Homo sapiens: one gene and its partners. The protein of the gene in region 2 interacts with the protein of the main gene of each other region in a pairwise test. Each region holds a gene or a part of one and is shown on either strand. Other genes may lie near its edges.

Region 1 (7,028 bases), on a different chromosome or scaffold from region 2:
GTGATCCACCCACTTCGGCCTCCCAAAGTGCTGGGATTACAGGCGTGAGCCACTGCGCCCGGCCAAGTACATTTTTTTCTGAATCATTTCAAAGTCCATTGTAGACCTGATAACACTTTACTTCTAAATACTTCTTCAGTATATGTCTCCTAAAATCAAGGGCAATAAGGTTTTGACATGCCTATTTAAAACAAAAACTTCTAACTCTATATACGGCAGATATTACTATGGAAGTTATAAAATATTATCTTTTACAAATAACCAAAATTAGTCATAAACACAGAAAGAAATTAGACACATACTGTACATTTTGACTTACCTGAAGTTCAAGGACAAGCAAAGCTAATCTAAGTTGATAGAGGTCAGTGGTCTTGGGAGGTGTGGAGGGTAACTGACTTAAGATGGGGCATAAGTGAATGCTCTGGAGGCTACAACTGTTGTGTATCTTGATCTGGGTGGTAGTTTAACAGGTGTATACGTATGTAAAAATTCATTGAGCTATATACTTCAGACTTGTGCACAACACTAAGTTATACTTCACTTTTTAAAAAAATTCCTTTAAAAATAAAGTAAGCTCTATATGAGGTATTGAAATAGTTTTTGTTCACCCACTTGATTTTTAAAAAAATAAATGCCAACTGATCTTCCATTTTTATGTAGGTGACTAGCATGTAAGATAACCATATCAACCACAGTATATTTAAGTTTTAATTTAAAAAAATATTAAAAGTGTATCTAAATATTACCTCCAAATATGATATGCCAAGAGGGGCATATTGAGACCCAGTGTAAGCCACTCTGCTGCACAAAGAAACATGACACAGAAGAAAGCGTGGATGAGGTACTCTGGGAGTACAAGCTGGAAGGAAAACACAAGCCAGTTATCAAAATGCCTCAGCATTAAGTCAACTACTAATCTGGAAAGCAGGTGGCAACCAAGTTTCCATAATGAAAAATCACTGTTTTCTTAGACTCAGAAATAAAAGATGCTACTGAGTTTTATTTCCATGTTTAACTTTTTACCAAAAGTAGGATTACAGGCAAACTGACCAGAGCATATAGCTTGCACTAACATAGTAAGATACATGACTTAAAATTCAAAGCTCAAATCCTTAGAGAAACAGATCAAATTATATAAAGTTACCACCCAGATTGTTAAACAATATGCTAGTCAACTAGAATACTTTTTCTTTTCACCATTCAACAATGATAGAAGTACAAAAATGAGATATCTGATCACATGCAACATATTAAAAATTCCACAGAAACAAAACTCCCCTTTGGAATTTTACATATCAGTGTTTTTAAGCCTTTAACAAAAACCAGAAATGCTACATACACAATATTTAGCAAACCACATTGCATTCCCACAGAAGTAATTTTTTAATGGAAAGCCAATCAGCCAATAATCTCAGCACAGTGAGGGGAAGAACACTAATATGCGCAAATGTAAAAGATTCGCTTTCTGCAATGTAGGAGGGAAAAGACTGAGTTCTTAACCATGAAATTAAGATTTTCCAGGTTCCCAAGTTCTCATTCTTAGGTGGCCTTTCCGTTTCTTTACCCCTGCTTGCCAACAAAATGCTACAGACACAACAGAAGACCAGTAGAAGCTCAGAACCCAAAAACAAAATAAACCTTTTGGTACTAGGTAATATTAAGTGAAGAAAAATTAATTCGAGCAAAATGCTTTTTATAAAATGACCAGGAGTTAATGCTTTATGTTAAATTATCTTTCTCATCCTAAAGATTTCAGCCTGAGGACTTTGTTAAATAAAAATACCAAAACCTCTCATTGCAAGTTTCAGCCGAAGTATCTCCTGTAAGTCACAGCTACAAAGCCAGTTTCTCAAATGTTTACTTCATACCAAATGGAAATCATATGAATACTTATCATCATCAGATCACTCCTGAGGGGAAACCATGGCTGTAGATATTGTAATCACACTACATACTCAGACCCATTTTCTCATACTCCCAAATTACTCTTTCCAATTTAAAGCTGTAGAGGGGACTTTCTAATGAATACTATTTTTAAAAAAAATCCAGGTAAACAACTCATCTACACCACTAACCAAATATTTTCTACAAACTTAAGCAATACAATAACAAAGGATAAACTCGGCATATGTACCTAAACTTCTAAATAACATTTAAGCCAGCATCTATTTAAGATCAAAGTTCTCTAAACAAGAAAAGGGCCATAGGACTCTGAAACTCAAGGACTATAACCAGAACAAACCAAGAAAAATATACATTTTATTAAGAATTCCACTAGAGTTGCTTTTATAATACTTGTTTAAATTACAGACGTTGTCTTTAAAATATAAGCCTATTTCAGCCCTAAAAAGCCATCTGATACCTAACAAACAAATCCTCATGCAAGGTTTTATCCTACACTTACAGAATGAAGTATGGAAAGAATGATTTTGAAAGCATGAACCCCTCCCGCTCTTAATATTACTTTAATAAAAGTGTTAATAAAGATAATCTACAACTCTACCAGTTCTAATATGAAACAATGCCATTCCCTCCCTTCTCCTCAAAAGGAGTCCAGAAACATTTACTACCCATCTCTCTTAAAAACCAACCCTCTCCGAGCATTCTTTAATGACAAAATTTCCCCATAAGAGACACAAAAATTATTCAATTTAGGAACCAAGGTTCAAACAGAAACTAGTATCCAGAAAAAAAACCTCAAGCAAATATGGCTGAAATGATAACATTTAAACATGCAAAATATAATATTCTCTTGTTAAAGTTCACAATTTAAAAAATAGTGATATTTGTCTTCCCCCATACTTTGGCAGAACTGTCAAAACAAATTTAAATAGGGAAAACTGTCAGATGCACTGCTATTCAGCCAATTATTGGCACCCTATCCAAAAGGCAACCTGTGCTGCTATAAAAACGTCCTTCAACCTCCTGCAGCATTAGGATGTCCCAAGCACATGTCTCTTCTCAGTGAGAATTTCTTTCCGTTAAGAAAAGCCAGGAATCGCACATTACCTGTTAAAATGAAACCTGTCCCTCCTAAATTTACAATACATTAGGAAAATACAAGAACTTGAGCTTCAAAAATTAGGCTGTCTTGAGTTCAAGTTCTGACTCTATCTTAGCTGTATAACATTCGGCAAAGTGCTTTAACCTGGCAAAGCTTCAGTTTACTCTCCTATTCATGAGATAACAATTTACCTACCTCAGGATTGTCATGAGAATTAAATTTAAAAATTCAGGCAAAGTGCTTACCACAGAGCCTAGCACCCAGGAAAATCCTCATCTGATTTCAAATATTTTTACCTTCATCATCATTTGGTTATTGAAGTAATGAAAAGACAAACAGCACAGAATACTATTAATAAACAGCTATCAAAAGGGGAAATTTCAGTTTCTTCATTTCCTGGTAACAACTTCAACTACTTAGGTTAAGATGTTTTAAAATTAACACTTAATGCTTTCCAAGAGAAGGCAAATTCATCTTCTTATGTCTTGTTTCATAAGAGCAAAGAAACAGCTAATAAGTTAATACTTTTAATTGTACCTACATCAACTCTTACTGTAACAGTTCTCTAAAGACAAACTAGAAATCTCTTCCACCATCCACATTTATCTGGGAAACAATAATAAAGTACCAAACTAACTTTCTAGATGCTTTTCCAAATAAAATCCCTCTAGCACCTAGTGCTAGTACACTAGTATGCTAGACAATTAAAATCTACACAAACTCTCCCCTTCGTTAAGTAATTTTTAAAGCTGAATTACTGTATTTTATTTCTTGAAGACATACCCACTGCTTTCTTATAAACAACCAACCTTTCAATTACTGACCAGTCAGGCAAAATCAAATACACAGGCTAAAAGAGTATCTTCCTAAATGCAGGCAAAAATACAAAAAAACAAACTGGGTACCCTGGTGTGTGCCTGTAATCCCAGCTACCCAGGAGATTGAGGCAGGACGATCACTTGACCCAGGAGTTTGATAAGAGCCTGGGCAATATAGAGACACCCCCATCTCAAAAGAAAATTTAAAAATACATACATATATATTTTTTCAAAAACCCTAAGCACAATGGAGCTACATTATCACTAAATTCATGATGGCTCAGAACTCAGTGTAATTCAGGCCTGTTTTAGAAACAGAAAGTAGATACACACTAGAAATAACCACATAGACATTTGTATACAAATTGTTATCTACAAAATTATGGCACCCTAAGTCCAAAGAATGGCATTGCTGCGAGATCCCAGAGCCCCCAGAACAGAGCTATCCACCTAACAGGCTCTGAATAAACATCAGCTGAAAGAATGACTCATTTATTCCAGAATATGCAAACCAAAGATAAAACTAGATATGGCAGATAAGTCCATACTAAAGATTTCACTCACATACTACCTCACAATAAGTCACAACCCGAGAATCATCTCACCATCTATTAGTCATTTTATGTTAACCAACTTTCAAGTACTACACCAAATAATTTCACATAGAAGTGCCTATGGCTATAACATAAAAAAACGCATACGCATTTAACAGCTTTCCCTACTTGACTGGGCCAGCAAGCATATATTTGCATAAAATATGAAATTTCATGAAATCATAAACCTCAACAGGCATATGAACGAGCACACTGAACAAAACGTTACAAATACAAATGCCCTAACCCTCCCCATGAAATGAATATAGCATTAAAACATTTAACTAAAAAGCAGTACACACCTTTAATGCAATTTTGACTCTTTTAATCTTTTTGACCTTTTCAACTGTCTTTGGCCGACAATGTAAAAAGCAGATTGGAAGAATGTTAGTATGACAGCTGACAAGATCACCAGCAGATTAATAATAGAATAGTCAAGCACGACAGGAAAAAGAAGATTTTTTAAATTCTGCCTACTTCAAAAAGTACAAATATATTATGCTACTCAGAATACTGGCCATTTTCAAATTACTTCAAGTTAAAAACAAACATATTTTTAAAATCTAAAGATAAATCCTATATTATAACTTACGGGATTCAGGGTATTACACTGGTCTATAGGATTCTTGTAATCAGTCTTCAGCTCATCAAATGCTATAATCTAAAATAAAATTAAAACAGTTAGGACCACTCACTTTAATTAAAAGCAGCAACAAACCTGCCCCATCTTCAAATAATTATTAAAGTTAATAAAACAAGAACAAAAGTACACCAAGATCCCAAATACCAATTTACAGTAAACTCATATATGACAAAAAGAACCAGAATGCGATTTAAAGTGAAAACACTCTTATCTCAGTATCACTAAAATTTGGTATTACTGTAATAAATACCTTCAATTTTCAATTTCGTCAATGCCTCTGCTCAAGTTATTTCAACTTATCTCTACTCGAAATAATCTTCTGAGTAGAAAAATAATTTCAACTGTTTATCCAAATTCCTCTTTATCCTAAAAAAAAAACAAACCTTCCTAGGTCAACTTCTTTCTGCAGGCTTTCCTAACTCCTTTGGGCAGAAGTAATTGCCCACATCTCCACACAGCATGGGACTCTATAATGCCATCGATATGGCTTTTCTCACCCTGGAGTGTGGTATTTACACACAGGTCTGTCTGCCCCTCTACACTCTCAGGGAGAAGGACCATTTTTATTTATCTGTGCATGCTCCTCCTCCCTTGGCACAGTGCTCAGTGGGACACTAGAGATGGATTCGAACTCTTCAATGTGTTCCCATTGGTGCCCAAACACATACATTTGTAAGGATGCTTTTGTCCACACTCTGGAGGAATGTGGCTTCAACCTCAAGGGTCACTAGAATGTACATTAAGAGTCAAAATAGGGACTCTGCACCACTTTGTGGCATCATTTCAGGTGACAAAGAAAGAAAACAAAGGCAGCAAGTTGATGGGGGAGCCATTTTAGTTGCTAACACTACTCACCCCAGGGACACACAAACTAAGCTACCCTTCCCTTAATGAGTTAGGAATAGTATCTTTATATGTGAAAGTGTTGCTCAATATTATCAGTAATCAGTAAAGTTACATATTTCCATCTTTTAACATGACTGTTTATTTCCCTGTTAAAATTTAGATTCATAAAAAGACGGTTTTTTTAATTTCTAGAGTTCCATAAAATTCACCCACCTGCCCTAATAAAAACTCCAACCAAACAACAATAGAAGGAAAATAATAAAACATTAGAATGTAATCTCTGAAAGAACAAAGATTGTTGTATTTACTATTATGTCCCAGGGCCTAAAATATAAAATAGTGCCTGGCACATAGTTAAGTGTTCAATAAATATTAACTGGAAGGAGGGGGTGAAAAAAATAGCACTAGGGATTAAAAAAAAAAAATGCAGAACTCACCAGGGGGATTTCCCTTGGCTAATGACACCTAACACAAATGTTAAAAACATACATGTGTAATTAGAAAATACTAATTTCTGATTACTTATGGACGTTATTAGTCTGCTACTTGACGTCAGCCGTGGTATATAACCCCAATGCATTTTAGTAATAAAGCTCAAGACAAGGATGATAATCATAAGTACTTGTCTATAACAAGATCCAACTTAACAGAATACAAAACTTGTCTTTAAAACTGACATTTAATTGGACATTTTCTCCAGGTGACTTCAAGGGTTTTTTTTTTTTTTTTCTTGAGACAGGGTCTTACTCTGTCACCCAGGCTGGAGTGCAGTGGCACAATCTCGGCTCACTGCAACCTCCACCTCCTCGGCTCAAATGATTCTCCTGCCTCAGCCTCCGGAGTAGCTGGGACTACAGGTGCATGCCACCATGCCTGGCTAATTTTTGTAGTTTTTGTAGAGATGGGATTTTACCATGTTGCCCAGGCTGGTCTCAAACTCCTGAGCTCAGGTGATCCACCTGCCTTGGCCTCCCAAAGTGCTGGGATTACAGGAATGAGCCACTGTGCCTGGTCACAGGGATTTTTTAACTATGTTGTTGAATGGGTTTCTCTTTGAGTGCTATAGGCTAGGGTTTTCGAACCTCTTCTGAGAATATTCTTAATGATTTTCAAATCTTTTTGCA
Region 2 (7,028 bases):
TGCTTTTTATTTTCTGCTTGAAGTGCTCTCTTTTGGTTATTAAGGTCTCAGTTTGAATGTCACTTCCCCAAAGAAGCCTTCCCCAACCCTGAAATCCCAGATAGCCCTTCTGAGTTGCTCTGCTATATCACCACATTAAATTTCATGCACATAACTCAACACTTTTCAAAATTATCTTTTTTGTGTATTTGTTTACTTGTTCATTGTATGTCTCCCTCCCCTGGAGTGTAAGCTAGCTGAGGGCTAGAATTTTGTTTGTCTTATTCACCGCTGTATTCCCAGCCCCCAGAATACCTGACACATGGTCAAAGTTTGTTAAAATGAATGAATGAATGAATGAATGAATGGAAGAGACTCAGACAGGTTAAGTAAATTGTCCAAAGTCACAGAGCTAACAAGTCATCAAGCCATGGTTTGAATGCAAAATTTGGAGCTTTGTGTGGCTCCAAAGCCCATGTTTCCTGAACACTTCCCTCTACTGTCACAAAAAGCCATGTGTTCAGGACTTCAATTTACAAAATACTTTTGCATGCATTACCTAATTTGCTCCACATTGTAACCCGGTATGATATAATCATAGCTTTGCTTTTTCCAGATGTGGAAACCAAGGCTCAGAAAGGTTTAGTAATTAATCCAAGATCCCTCTCAGAGAAATAGAAGGGCTGGTAAGTAGCAAGGCAGGAATTCACTTCCCAGGAATTATGTATGGGTATGTGGCACCCAACCACACCACCTCTGAAGCTCACATTCTCACGCTGATAATCAAGGGTATTTTATACATGAGAACGGCTCATCAGGGCCATTCATTAGGAATCTAAGTGGGGAGCTGGAAGCACATTAAATGTACTGAGGCTAGGCCAGGTGTGGGGGCTCACATCTGTAATCCCAGCACTTTGGGAGGCCAAGGCAGGCAGGATTTCATGACCAGCCTGGGCAACATGACGAGACTCCATCTCTACAAAACAAACAAACAAACAAACAAACAAAAAAAAAACAAAAAAAAACAACTAGGTGTGGTGGTGTTCATCTGTAATCCCAGCCACTTGGGAGGCTGAGCTGGGAGGATCACTTGATCCCAGGAGGTCGAGGCTGCAGTGGGCTGAGATTGTACCACTGCACTCCAGCCTGGGTGACAGAGTGAGGCCCTGTCTCAAAAAAAGAAAGAAAACAAAAAGAAAAGTACTGAGGCTAAACAAAGCCTTGCTCCTGAAGAAAGGAGAGGTGTGGGGGTCCTATGGCAACTACTGTGGGTTTGCACAAAGGTCCCCAGATCATAAAACAAAGTGGTTTGGGGATCTTGGAAGGTTACAGGGGTGGACTTCAGTGTCTTGTACGAGACAAGGCATTTTAGAGTAAATTGGACATGTCCTAAGGTAAGGATCTGTGTCCTTCCACAGGTCTAGCTTTCTTGCCTGCCAGTGTGTCCTACCTCATTGGCACCAACCTCTTTGGTGTGTTGGCCAACAAGATGGGTCGGTATGTAGCCTCGGGATCTGGGACGAACAGTAGAAATGTAAGATGGAAGAGCGCCCGTTCCTGATCTTGGAATGATGAACAGCTTCCATACGGTTGAAAGTTTAGGATGAGTACACACCGATAAAAACTTCCCACTGGGAGGATGGGCAGTGAGTGAGTGGTGAGGGTGGTATGGAGAATGGATTGTCCTGAGCTCTGAGCTGATTGTTATAGAAGAGGCAGTGGATACATGAGGGGCACCCCTTACTTTCCATCCATTTGCTGTCCAGTTGAGGAGATAAAATAACCACAACAGAGAACAGCTATGAAAAATGCAGTACTTTGGGAAAGTAGTTTTCAAATTATGTTCTGTGGAATCCTAAGGAGTTCTATAGAGGCACCCCAGAGGCCACTGAGGAGGAAGGGTTGGGGGCCAAGAGCTATGAGTCTCCATTCTGTCCCTTCACTACAATAAGGACAGCTTTAATTTTATCTTTGGAGTTTAGCATCAAGATTTTAGAAGCACTGCCATAGGACATCAGAGAAGGAAAGAAGTTTGGTACTTTCTGTGTTTTTTGAGACAGACCTCAAGGACCAAATAAAATAGGACAGGTAGGAGGCAGTCTGAGCTGGGCAACAGCATGAGTTAAGTTTGAGGGCTACTTCTAAGGAACAAGTGCCTCCTGAGTCAGCTGATTCCTCCTGTAAGGGAAGGAAGAGTGTGTCCCACGGCACCTCCTCTGCCTTTCTATAGAAAAAGGGATGGAGCCAGGGGAGACAAGGAAAGGGCAGGGAGAGAGCTCATTTGGGTACAAACTGGTCATGTAGGGATGCTGTCCTCAGGTCCTAAGGGGTTGCTGGGATTAGGGCTGGTGGGACAGGTCAGCATGGCGGTGATGGGGTACAGGTGGAGGGGAGCTCTCCCCTAGTGGTGTTTGATGATGGCTTTTTTCTTCCAGGTGGCTGTGTTCCCTAATCGGGATGCTGGTAGTAGGTACCAGCTTGCTCTGTGTAAGTATAAGAAGACCTGGGGGAGGGGAAGGAGAGAGAGAGCGAGAGACAGACAGACAGAGAGAGAGAGAGAGAGAGAGAGAGAGGGAGAGAGAGAGAGAGAAAGACACAGACATTTAAAGACTAATTTCCTTTAAGATGAGCAGAGATGGCTTGGCAAGGACTGTCAGAAAGACTGTTTCTGAATAGGCAGGAATTTAGCACGGGGGAAGAGGCCACCAGCTGCAGTGGCTTTCCTTTGAGGGGAAGTGGGAAAGGAGAGGAAGAGGGCTGTAGGGCAGCTGGAGCCGGAGGTCTGAGGCTGTACATGTGGGCATATGAAGTGATACATGTTGGTATCCATTTCTGGGGATGGCAAAATGGTGCGTTTTATGACTTCATTTACTCATCCCACCCTGACAGAGCCTCATAAATCCCCAGGGAACCATCATCTATGTCCCAGTCTCTGGCACCAGAGGCTTGATAGAAGAAGAAAGAAAGAAGGACTTTTCCATTTCCAAGAATCCCCCTCAAGTTCTCAAAGCCTTCATTTCCTCCTCTCCCCAGTGGGGATGAGAAACACACAAACCTCCTAGGCCTGAGGGAGAGAAGAACAGGGCTACAAGGCACTGTAAACTGTGCTCAAGACCAGCTGGAGGTCCTGAGCAGGAGCATGGGATCCGGGTTCCATGGCAGGTTTTGCCACTTTCTATGCATGTGACTTTGAGCAGGTTACTTCATCTCCGTGTGCTCAGCATCCTCATCTATGTAGAGAGGGTTCTGATGGTGTCCACAGGGTTGTCAAGGTAATCCAAATAAACCACAGTGTCTGGCACATGGTGAGCCCATAGTGAATCTCAGCCAATACTATTGATAATTTATAAACATTTCTTGAGGCATGAACCCTAAAAATTGTTATCAGCCAGCAGCATCTAAACGGTATGCTAAACCCTTAAGGGGTGAGTGTCCTGGGGTAGCAGGTTTGAATGGCAGGTACCCAGAGAGGGAGGTAAGGAACCTGAAAAAGAGGGAAGAAGGGGTTTTTGTTGGGGGATTGGGAGGGCAATGGGAATGAGTCTCACAAGCTTCCTGACAGGGGACCCAAGCCACACCACCTGCCCCCTCTAGCTTACAGCTAACTGGTTGTTGGGGCCTCTTCTCTATCTTCTTTTTCCAACAGCTACCAAGTTAGAAGTCTAAATGAAACCTTTCAGTGATGTCCATAATGGAAAACAGAGGCAACTTTATTCCATGAAGAATGAGACCAGGAGTGTATGTTTAGGTGAAGAGGGGTAGAGGAAGGGGAGAAAGTATCCATGGAACAGAGGAAGACCCTCGTTAGAGCATAATGGAGCCAAGTCTGAGGTCCAAACTTGATCTTGCCACTCATTAGATCTGTAACTCTGGATAGAGCAATAAATAAACACAACAGCGCTGGTCAAGTTTTCATATCCTTAAAATGGAGGTATAGATTCTTTTCCATGAGAAAGTCTGAGAGTGCAGGAGGATGATGTATGTGGCCAATAGTGCACTCTGAATAAATGCATTTCATGTGAAAACTCTTTGAACCTTGCTCCCACCTGACCCATCTGGAGTCCTGATGACTCTTCCTCCTTCCCCATGCAGGTTCCTCTGGCTCACAATATTTTTGGTCTCATTGGCCCCAATGCAGGGCTTGGCCTTGCCATAGGTAAGAAGTGCCCTCAAAGAAAACAATAAGCCCCTGCATGTTGGCTTTGGGTCTGATGCCTTTCCTCCCCCTTTTCTCATCAGAGGAGGTAGGTGCAGAGGCAGAAGGATCAGGAGGGCAGCTGGCAGGGTTGTGGAGAGATGAGCTCGTAATTCCCACCTGGAACAGGTGTTAGTCCGAGGCAGAAGACAGCAGACAAAGCAAATGGACTAAATGGAGGAGGAGAGGCGGGGTGGTACTAACTGTGGGTGGGGCTGACTGTGTCCTGTTTGCTCTGGCCACAGGCATGGTGGATTCTTCTATGATGCCCATCATGGGGCACCTGGTGGATCTACGCCACACCTCGGTGTATGGGAGTGTCTACGCCATCGCTGATGTGGCTTTTTGCATGGGCTTTGCTATAGGTATGTTGGCAGGACCTGGTGCCCCACTTTCCCCTGTCTACTCTTTACCAGCTGGAAGTGCAGCCAGGAAGCTATCCTCCTAGGGTTCTGGAGATCTTTGACGCTGAGACATCCTCTGGGTCACCCACTGCCCCTAGCATAGTGTCCTACGTGGAGGATGCTCCATATGGAGGCTCCATAGACACTTATGACTTTGATGTATCCCTCCCAGGTCCATCCACCGGTGGTGCCATTGTAAAGGCCATCGGTTTTCCCTGGCTCATGGTCATCACTGGGGTCATCAACATCGTCTATGCTCCACTCTGCTACTACCTGCGGAGCCCCCCGGCAAAGGAAGAGAAGCTTGTAAGGAGCACCGACTGTTAAAAGAGAAATTCACTTCTGTTTCTTTCCATCATCTCTCTCATTCCCTTTCATCCTGGGCTGTTATTTCCTCCCTCTATTGCTCTGTTGATACTCTCTCTGCTTTGCCATGTTTCCCAATCCCCTTTCATCTTCATATTTCTTTTGTGCACTTCCTTAATTTCCCTTCTCTAAGTAACCACTTCCCTCTTTCTGGGGCTATCAGGAAGGGTCTTCAGTAGAGAAGGGAAATGGGGGCAGAGGACCATCAAAGACATCCTGTAGTTACTGTTCTTAGCTTGCTAGTTACTAGCAAGATGTGAGTTACCAAGTTAACTCCCTCATAAGTGGGCAGAATTCCATTGGCACATCCGTTCATCCACTCATTCACTCTAGTGCAACATTATCCTTACCAGGTCACTTTTTTTTTTTTTTTTTGATGGAGTTTCACTCTTGTTGCCCAGGGTGGAGTGTAATAGTGTGATCTCGGCTCACCACAACCTCTGCCTCCCGGGTTCAAGAGATTCTCCTGCCTTGGCATCCCAAGTAGCTGGGATTACAGGCATGTACCACCATGTCTGGCTAATTTTTTGTATTTTTAGTAGAGATGGGGTTTATCCATGTTGGTCAGCAGGTCACGTTTTTAAAAGTACAAAAACCCCAGGGAAGAGATCCATACCATAGGATTTTCTTTAATAAAGCACTTTCCTCTTACTGCAGCACAAACATCCTGAGGGCCTGATGGGTTTGGGATACCGACAGAGGCTGCTCAAGGGAACAAAAGAAGACATGAAGGTGTGATAGGGAGTGGTGGTGATTCCATTTGGCTTCCTGCTGTAACTTTCACTACCACTGTTAAATTCAGTTAAAAGCAAATGAGATACTTGTCCTGACAAGGGTTGATATACTAGGTACCCCGGGAGGCTGGTGCATGTACATGCAGAGGGTCCTATGCATGTTTCTTGAGTACTTAGCAATGCCAGCCTTGGAAGAACTAGTGGGAGGACGGAATGAGGAGATTGGTAAAAAAAAGATGTGCGGTGGTTGGCCGGGCGCGGTGGCTCACGCCTGTAATCCCAGCACTTTAGGAGGCTGAGGCGGGCGCATCACGAGGTCAGGAGATCGAGACCATTCTGGCTAACATGGTGAAACCCCGTCTCTGCTAAAAATACAAAAAATTAGCCTGGCGTGGTGATGGGCGCCTGTAGTTCCAGCTACTCTGGAGGCTGAGGCAGGAGAACGGCATGAACCCGGGAGGCGGAGCTTGCAGTGAGCCGAGATTGCGCCACTGCACTCCAGCCTGGGCAACAGAGCGAGACTCCGTCTCAAAAAAAAAAAAATGATAATAATGTGCAGTGGCTTCTCTTCTTGCCTCTCTCTGCAGGCTATTCTGAGTCAGGACTGCCCCATGGAGACCCGGATGTATGCAACCCAGAAGCCCACGAAGGAATTTCCTCTGGGGGAGGACAGTGATGAGGAGCCTGACCATGAGGAGTAGCAGCAGAAGGTGCTCCTTGAATTCATGATGCCTCAGTGACCACCTCTTTCCCTGGGACCAGATCACCATGGCTGAGCCCACGGCTCAGTGGGCTTCACATACCTCTGCCTGGGAATCTTCTTTCCTCCCCTCCCATGGACACTGTCCCTGATACTCTTCTCACCTGTGTAACTTGTAGCTCTTCCTCTATGCCTTGGTGCCGCAGTGGCCCATCTTTTATGGGAAGACAGAGTGATGCACCTTCCCGCTGCTGTGAGGTTGATTAAACTTGAGCTGTGACGGGTTCTGCAAGGGGTGACTCATTGCATAGAGGTGGTAGTGAGTAATGTGCCCCTGAAACCAGTGGGGTGACTGACAAGCCTCTTTAATCTGTTGCCTGATTTTCTCTGGCATAGTCCCAACAGATCGGAAGAGTGTTACCCTCTTTTCCTCAACGTGTTCTTTCCCGGGTTTTCCCAGCCGAGTTGAGAAAATGTTCTCAGCATTGTCTTGCTGCCAAATGCCAGCTTGAAGAGTTTTGTTTTGTTTTTTTTCATTTATTTTTTTTTTTAATAAAGTGAGTGATTTTTCTGTGGCTAAATCTAGAGCTGCTAAAAGGGCTTTACCCTCAGTGAAAAGTGTCTTCTATTTTCATTATCTTTCAGAAACA
Region 3 (7,028 bases), on a different chromosome or scaffold from region 2:
GAGGGAATTCCAAATGCAACTGCCCTGACTCACAAAGCAACTACAACTAAATATACTGAAGTTCTCTCAGTTGTTTTTAGCCTCTTTGTCACTATAAAATAAAATCATGTCTCTATCCTGTTCTTTTCTCAGTCTTCCCTATCTCATTCACCATCCATCTGTTTTATAAAGCAAAAATTCTAAGAGTAACCCTTGATTCTATATCTTGTATCCTTGCATTTCCTTCACTGCCACTGCCACCATCCTAGTAGGCACTCAATAAATGTTTGTTGAATAAGTGAAGATAAATATTATCCAGTTTATTATCTGCCTTCATAAATAGGTAGAGGGAAGAGAGTGAAGAAGTTTCTTGTATCACACTTTAGTGGGATGGTATTATGAAGTATAGGTTGGGAAGGTTCAGATAGAACCCTCTAGATCTGTACTATCAAATAAATGGAAATAAAAAAAGCAGAAGCAACAACAGTAACAACATCTATTCCTGCTGACATAGGTTGCAATCAGCCCCAGTCAGCTATCTTCCAAAATACAATTAGGGCTGATGTCTTTGGGTAGCATAGGTAAGAAAATATCAGTGTGAATGTTCTACCTTGCAGGGATGATAAAAGGTTGAAACAGGAAAATATAAATAACAAGTACCATAATGATATGGGATTATTGATTATTATTTTATGCTGCGCATATTTCATTCCTGGCTCTATGACCTACACATGGCAAGTCAGTAAATCTGGCTGTATCTAGAGAATAATTTGATGTTCATAAAAAGTTTTCCCCCCAAACTGAGTGTGTCAGGCCACTTTAAGACAGGAACCATCTCAATCCACCCATTCCCTCATTGATTATGAAAGTGACACAGTTTAGTAACAGTGTTGGGGGAGGAATTTTTTGGGAGCGAACTTGCTGCTAAACTCTTTTCATCCATACAGCATCAGCAGCTCTGCAGGCCAGTTTCCTCTGGATCTAGATGAGTCCCTAGGGGTTTTATGGGCAAGACCACAGTGTAGTACTTTATAGCCTGTGAAGCACCATCACACACTCTACTGCCTTTCATCTCCATTGGACGTCACATGGTAGCAAGGACTGTTACCCTTCCTTTCTAGGTGAAAACTCAGGAACATAGAGGTAAACTGACTTGTTCAATGTTACGGCCAAAAAATGGCTTAGCTAGAATTTGAATCAATCATGACATTGATCAGATAATTTTCCTAAATGGTGATCTGGGAGAAATGATAGGGCTTTCAGAAAGGTCTATTATTTTCACACAGCATTTAACGTTCTTAAGACTGTAGGTATGGTTTTCATGGATCTGCTTTTAGTTCTGTTCCCATGAACATACTTCAGATAGACCTCGCTTCTAAGTTTTTCATAAATAAAATCACAATAACATTGTGGAGGGTCTTTGCTTTTTAGGGCTGAGAGGCTGTGATACCTTGGCTTTTTAAGGGTCTCAGTTTTTAACCGAAAAAAATAGGTACTTCTCTGACATGTGGGAAAGAAGGACATATGGTTACTTGCCAAACACTTCCTGGAGTTTTTCTCCGTTGCTGCCAGGAGTGATCCGGAAATAATATACTGTAAAAAAGAGAGGTGGGGGAGATGGAGAGGGGGTGGGCAAGACAGGAGATAGAGGAGAGAGGGAGATCACTTTTTAACATTGATAACTGGTCAGAAAGAAGCCTACACTTTCAGCAACTTTCACACAACCATCCACCCATTTTTATCAGTTGTATTCATTTTTCAGCTGTCATATTCCTCCTTTATTCAGGCTCAGTGACACTAAATTCATGCCTTTTACTCAATCATCTGGGGATCTGTGACTAGGAATATAGTAAGACCAAAGAGACAGAACTCAAATTTCCTCATCAATTAATACTCATACCATAAATTTAAAAGTTTTATTTCTAGTTTTTCTTTGTTTTTAACTTGTGGAACTGCCCTTTGGGGTTCACAGTGACATAAATGACTCTGATGCCCTCTGAAGAGTGAACTGATGCAGAAGGAAATACTTGACCTGAATGGCACAGGCACTCCATGAAAACATTGGCTGTTACAGGAAGTGATGATGACTATTGCTCATCTTCCTTTTCTCACATTCAGGCTGTAGAATGGAGGAAACTCTTGTTCTAACCCATCTCTACTTGTTTGGAAAATTTTAATCCTGGACTTATCTTTTATAGTGGCAACTATGAAAAGTATCACGGGGAAATAAACATCACTGTCCTATGTGCCACACCCAGACAGGGTTACAGATTTGGAAAACATGTACGTAAAACAGCCAAAAGAGTGCTGCTCTGTCGATAAGCAAAATGAGACTGACTTGTGATGGGACAGGTTTCACCAGGTACCATAGTAACCAAACAGAATTGTAAGCAAGAAGGGGTAGATGGAAGTGGATGTTCCTGCTGCCTCTTGCTTTCCAAAACATCTTGCTATCTAGTCTAAATGTCTAGGGCCACCCTCCCCACCAGAACTGACTTTGGAGAGTTCTTGCTTTGGACAGTCCCTGTGAGATCCATGCAGGGCCCCTTTCTCTGAATTCACATGAAACAGGACCACTGACTCTCAACCATGGGATTTATACTCAATTTGGTCAACCTGTCTTCTTAATTACTTTAACCCAATAATATTTCCTACTCATATATTTCCCTCAACACAGAAATAATCTGGCATATCCCTGTGGAGCCTTTTAACATTTTTGTCTGCACCATTTCCCAAATGGCTGCTATTCTTTTACTCACCATAATGCCTCCCCAGAGAGGGTACCACACAGTCACACAGATGGGTGCATAGATCCCTGCTGGGATCATCAGAAGACCCCCCAGGGCAATGTGGAAGAGCCCATTCATAATCTGGACAGCCTGGGGAGAGAACAGAGGCAGCAGTGGATGAGCTGAAATCATCACTGCTAGCAGGCAAAGACAAGGTTGGAAGCTCTGGCTCCTGACTTGGAGCTGTGAGGAATGCCTAAAGGAAGCAGTGGAGGTGCCAAGAATTTTGTCTTTTTCTTGTTCGAATCTGTTTCCTCAACCACATGGGGCATTTCCAGGGAGCAGGTATGCCTGGGATTCTGGCAATGGACTGGGATGGGGGACCCCTGCATATACAAGCCCCAAAACCAAAAGGTGACATAAGATCACCCAGAGGTGATCTAAGTGATAACTTCTCTGATGCACCCCTGATTTGGCCCACTGTGTTAGACATAAAGAAGACATCAGGTTGGATCCCAATTCTTCAAATTGGATTGAATTCTGTATGTGGCCTATACCGCATCAGCTTCTGTCAGCCAGAGAATCCCTACGACATGGGATGGAAGGCAACTGACTTACCCCCAAAGTCTTAGATTCCCTCATGAAGAAGCTTTGCGTGGGGCCCACCAGTGAAGACATCCTCCTGAAGAGTGGTTTTGGACCAGATTGCATAGCAATAGGGCCTTTCATTGGCTCTGCCGGGAAAGTCCCATTTACTGAATTTCTGGGTGTTGTCATTTTGCTCTCAAAACTCCTAAAAATAAAACAAATAACAAAATGAGGAGAGCAAGAACAAGATTTTTGGCAGTCTTACCTTGTGTCATGCATCTGAATGCTTCTCTCAGCATTTCCTCCATGAGTGTCATTGAGGGTAGACATGGCCTCTTCCGAGTGACCTTGGATCTGAGGCAAGGCCTACTGCTGAGTTCTGAGAAAGGAGATGGAGGGGTTGTTTAGGAAGAGCATGTGGGCCCAGGAGTCCCTGCCAGTGATCTTGACAACTGGGTTTGGGGCATTCTTTATCTTTGTAGAGGACACCTTGCATATATGACTGCATGTCCTCTTTGTTTCTTATTCCTGGATGCTTTTCTTTTGCTTTAATATTGAAAAATGTATTTTCAATGGACTTGTCCTTGTCCTTTTGCTTATCTGCCTTTGTGCATTATGATGGGCCAGAGGCAACATTGCAGAGTATGGTAAGGACTATCTGTAGAAGCAGGAGGGGTCGATTCCAGGCCTCTCTCTGTCTCTAACTCTGCCACCTTGTGCAAGTCACATCAAGAAGGCTCTCTAGGTCGGGCACGGTGGCTCATGCCTGTAATCCAAGCACTTTGGGAGGCCAAGATGGGCAGATCACCTGAGGTCAGGAGTTTGAGACCGGGCTGGCTAACGTGGCAAAACCCCATCTCTACTACAAATACAAAAATTAGCCAGGCATGTTGGTGTGCACCTGTAATCCCAGCTACTCGGGAGGCTAAGGCAGGAGAATTGCTTGAACCCAGGAGGCAGAGGTTGCAGTGAGCTGAGATCATGCCACTGCATTCCAGCCTGGGTAACAGAGTGAGACTCGGTCTCAAAGAAAAAGAAAAGGCTCTCTAAGGCTTTCTAATGCAGTATATAAGACTGTGGCCTCCTGAGTCAGATTGCCTAGGTTTCAATAGTGATTCCTCCATTTGTTCTGAGATGTTGGGCAAGTTCTTTAAATTCTCTGGGCCTCAGGTTCAACTGTAAAATTGAAATAATAATAATTCTTATCTCGTGGGCTGCTATAACACTTAACTGGGCTCATGGTCTGTGCATGGCTAGTGTCTTTTTGTTCAGGTGTAGCTCAAATGTCAGCTCCTAGAGGAGCCTACCTTGAACCCTCAATCTATAACATGTACTCCTATTTGCTGTCTTTTACAAAATCCTATCTTAATTGCTTTACGGCATTGATCACTGTAGGAAATTACCTTATTTATTTAATTGCTTATTGTCAGTCTCTTCCCCACAGAATGGAAGTTCCATCAAAGTAGAGATTTTGTTCTCTCTTGTTCAGGATCTAAAATAATTTTTGGATTTAGTTACTTCTTAATAAATATTATTGAAGAAATAAATGTATGCAAAGAACCCATGTTGGAATAAATAGTTATTTTTGTTGCTATTCTTGTTCTTTGTACTTTGCTGAGCATTAGTTTCGATTTTATCCTTCTGTAAAGTTAGAACAGTACCCCTCTCTGAGATGTAAGACATAAATAAGTTAACATATGTAATTGTGCCTAGGACAAAGGGAGAGTGTAGTAAATGCTATTTATCAGTTTTCATGATTTATTCATTTCTGAAGTGAGAAGGCAATTAATACGGCCCTTTCCAGCTCAGACATTTTAAGATTCTGTTCAATCTTCATCTTGGGTTTCCTTAGCATTCACTTGTTCATGTTAACCACTTATGCGGACTCCACTGGGTCTTTCCTGGAATCTGAAAATCCCTCTTTTGGGGACACATCTTTGCTCTTGTCTTTATTGCTTGTAAGTCATGTAAGATGTCTTGGAAATCAAGACTGTCTATCCAGGTCACATATCTTACTGAAGCCGGTGCCACATCCCAGCCATTAGACCACAGCCTGAAGTATATCTTACTGAAGTCAATCAGAGCTGAGTAGCTGCAGGTGTGCTGTAAAACAGGCAGCTGACTACTGTCACATTTATACCTACTTTAGGGCTGGAAGTAAATTTGACACATGGCATCTCATCTGAGCCTTATAGAACAGGCAAGGGGTGAATCATCACCTGTGTTTTATAGAAGAGGAAACAAGGGCACGGAGAAGCTAGGTTACTTGTGCCAAGTTACATAATTAGTAAATATTTTTTGTTTGTTTGTTTGTTTTCATGACAGGGCCTCGCTCTGTCGCCCAGGCTGCAGTGCAGTGTCATGATCACAGCTCACTGCAGCCTCTACCTCCTGGGCTCAGGTGATCCTTCTGCCTCAGCCACTGGAGTAGCTGGGACCACGGGCAACCACCACCATACTCAGCTAATTTTTATATTTTTTTTAGAGATGGGGTCTTGCCATGTTGCCCAGGCTGGTCTTGAACTCCTGGACTCAAGCAATCTGCCCCCCTCCACCTCCCAAAGTGCTAGGATAACAGCTGTGAGCCACCATGCCCAGCCTGTAAAGATTTAAAATGAAGACTTGGATCTCTCAAATTAGGCATCCAGGGTACCAGGCTGCTTTGTCTCCTGTGAGAAATAGGAATTCAGCCTTTCCCTTATGACCCCTCTTTTCTCCTTCCAATATATGCACTATGTGAATGACTATAAATCAGTTGAAAAGTATTATCTGTCTGGCGCATGGGCTAGAGGAAAGAGAGAAGAAACTTTGGTTGTTTCTCACTTGATTTTGCCCCTGCCCTAGATAGCCAGATGCCACATGGTCCTGGGGATCTGCTTTGTACAACAAGCCACTCTACAAGACCTCTAACAAAAACAGATATTTTAATATAGCCCACTAAAGAGTTTGCGGACTGATTCTGGTCACTAGGTAGGATTTCTAGAGCTAGTCCAAACCTCAGAAACCATTCTGTTCATTTCACAAATGAGGAAGCTGCAGTCTGGGTATAGAATTTGCCTTAGTAAAGACCTCACAGTTAGCAACAGAGCCAAGCTAGAAGGCACTCACCATGGCTCTGATGTTGATGCTTTTTCTGCTGTACCATAGGTGAGTCCAGATAATTATAGTTGTTTACTGAGCACCTACTATATACTAGAGATATTGTATATGGTATTGCCAACTCACTCAACACCTTCGTAAGTAGGCATTTTGACTACTTTCTGCAGATGAAGAAATGGAGGTTGAGAGAGGTTATTTTTCCCAAGGTCCTATGGCAAGTATGGAATGAGCTGGGAGTCACTACACTCCGCCCCAGAGGGGTAACTTTAGTGAAGATAACTTAAAATGCAAAGGTCATCAATTGTTTGAACTGAAGGAGATGATTGGACTGCCATTGTTTTAATTTCATTTTATTCATCAACTGCTTGATTAAAGCTGTGTCTGTATTATTGGCGAGATAAACTTTTTTGTAAGCCAATTCTACTTGGGCTATGCCTGTTGTAACTAATGGCAATAATGACCATGAGGGCTGTGTGTGTGTGTGTGTGATATTTCTCTGTTAAAATGGTATCTCATGGTGGCAACTATACTTCTACAAACCTTAAACAAATATTTGTATAAAATAGTAGTTTATAAAGAAACACATGAGTGCTTTCTCTGTTTTTTTATTTCTTATGGAAACTATCTTTCATA

Evidence for each region. Proteins that work in one complex are often made in the same cells at the same time.
Region 1: the proteins of SLC18A1 (region 2) and CNIH1 interact in binary tests that used the Homo sapiens proteins (3 or more experiments, as listed by UniProt).
Region 3: the proteins of SLC18A1 (region 2) and MS4A1 interact in binary tests that used the Homo sapiens proteins (3 or more experiments, as listed by UniProt).

What each region holds. Positions count from the first base shown.
Region 1 is NC_000014.9:54,431,362-54,438,389, forward strand, and holds part of CNIH1 (protein cornichon homolog 1), read right to left. Parts: intron 5,077-7,028; coding exon 5,008-5,076; intron 860-5,007; coding exon 747-859; intron 1-746. UniProt on the Homo sapiens protein: Involved in the selective transport and maturation of TGF-alpha family proteins.
Region 2 is NC_000008.11:20,145,114-20,152,141, reverse strand, and holds part of SLC18A1 (chromaffin granule amine transporter), read left to right. Parts: intron 1-1,397; coding exon 1,398-1,476; intron 1,477-2,414; coding exon 2,415-2,466; intron 2,467-4,071; coding exon 4,072-4,135; intron 4,136-4,419; coding exon 4,420-4,539; intron 4,540-4,750; coding exon 4,751-4,884; intron 4,885-6,265; coding exon 6,266-6,379; 3' UTR 6,380-7,028.
Region 3 is NC_000011.10:60,458,832-60,465,859, reverse strand, and holds part of MS4A1 (B-lymphocyte antigen CD20), read right to left. Parts: intron 4,789-7,028; 5' UTR 4,700-4,788; intron 3,676-4,699; 5' UTR 3,486-3,675; coding exon 3,327-3,485; intron 2,859-3,326; coding exon 2,739-2,858; intron 1,573-2,738; coding exon 1,516-1,572; intron 1-1,515. UniProt on the Homo sapiens protein: B-lymphocyte-specific membrane protein that plays a role in the regulation of cellular calcium influx necessary for the development, differentiation, and activation of B-lymphocytes.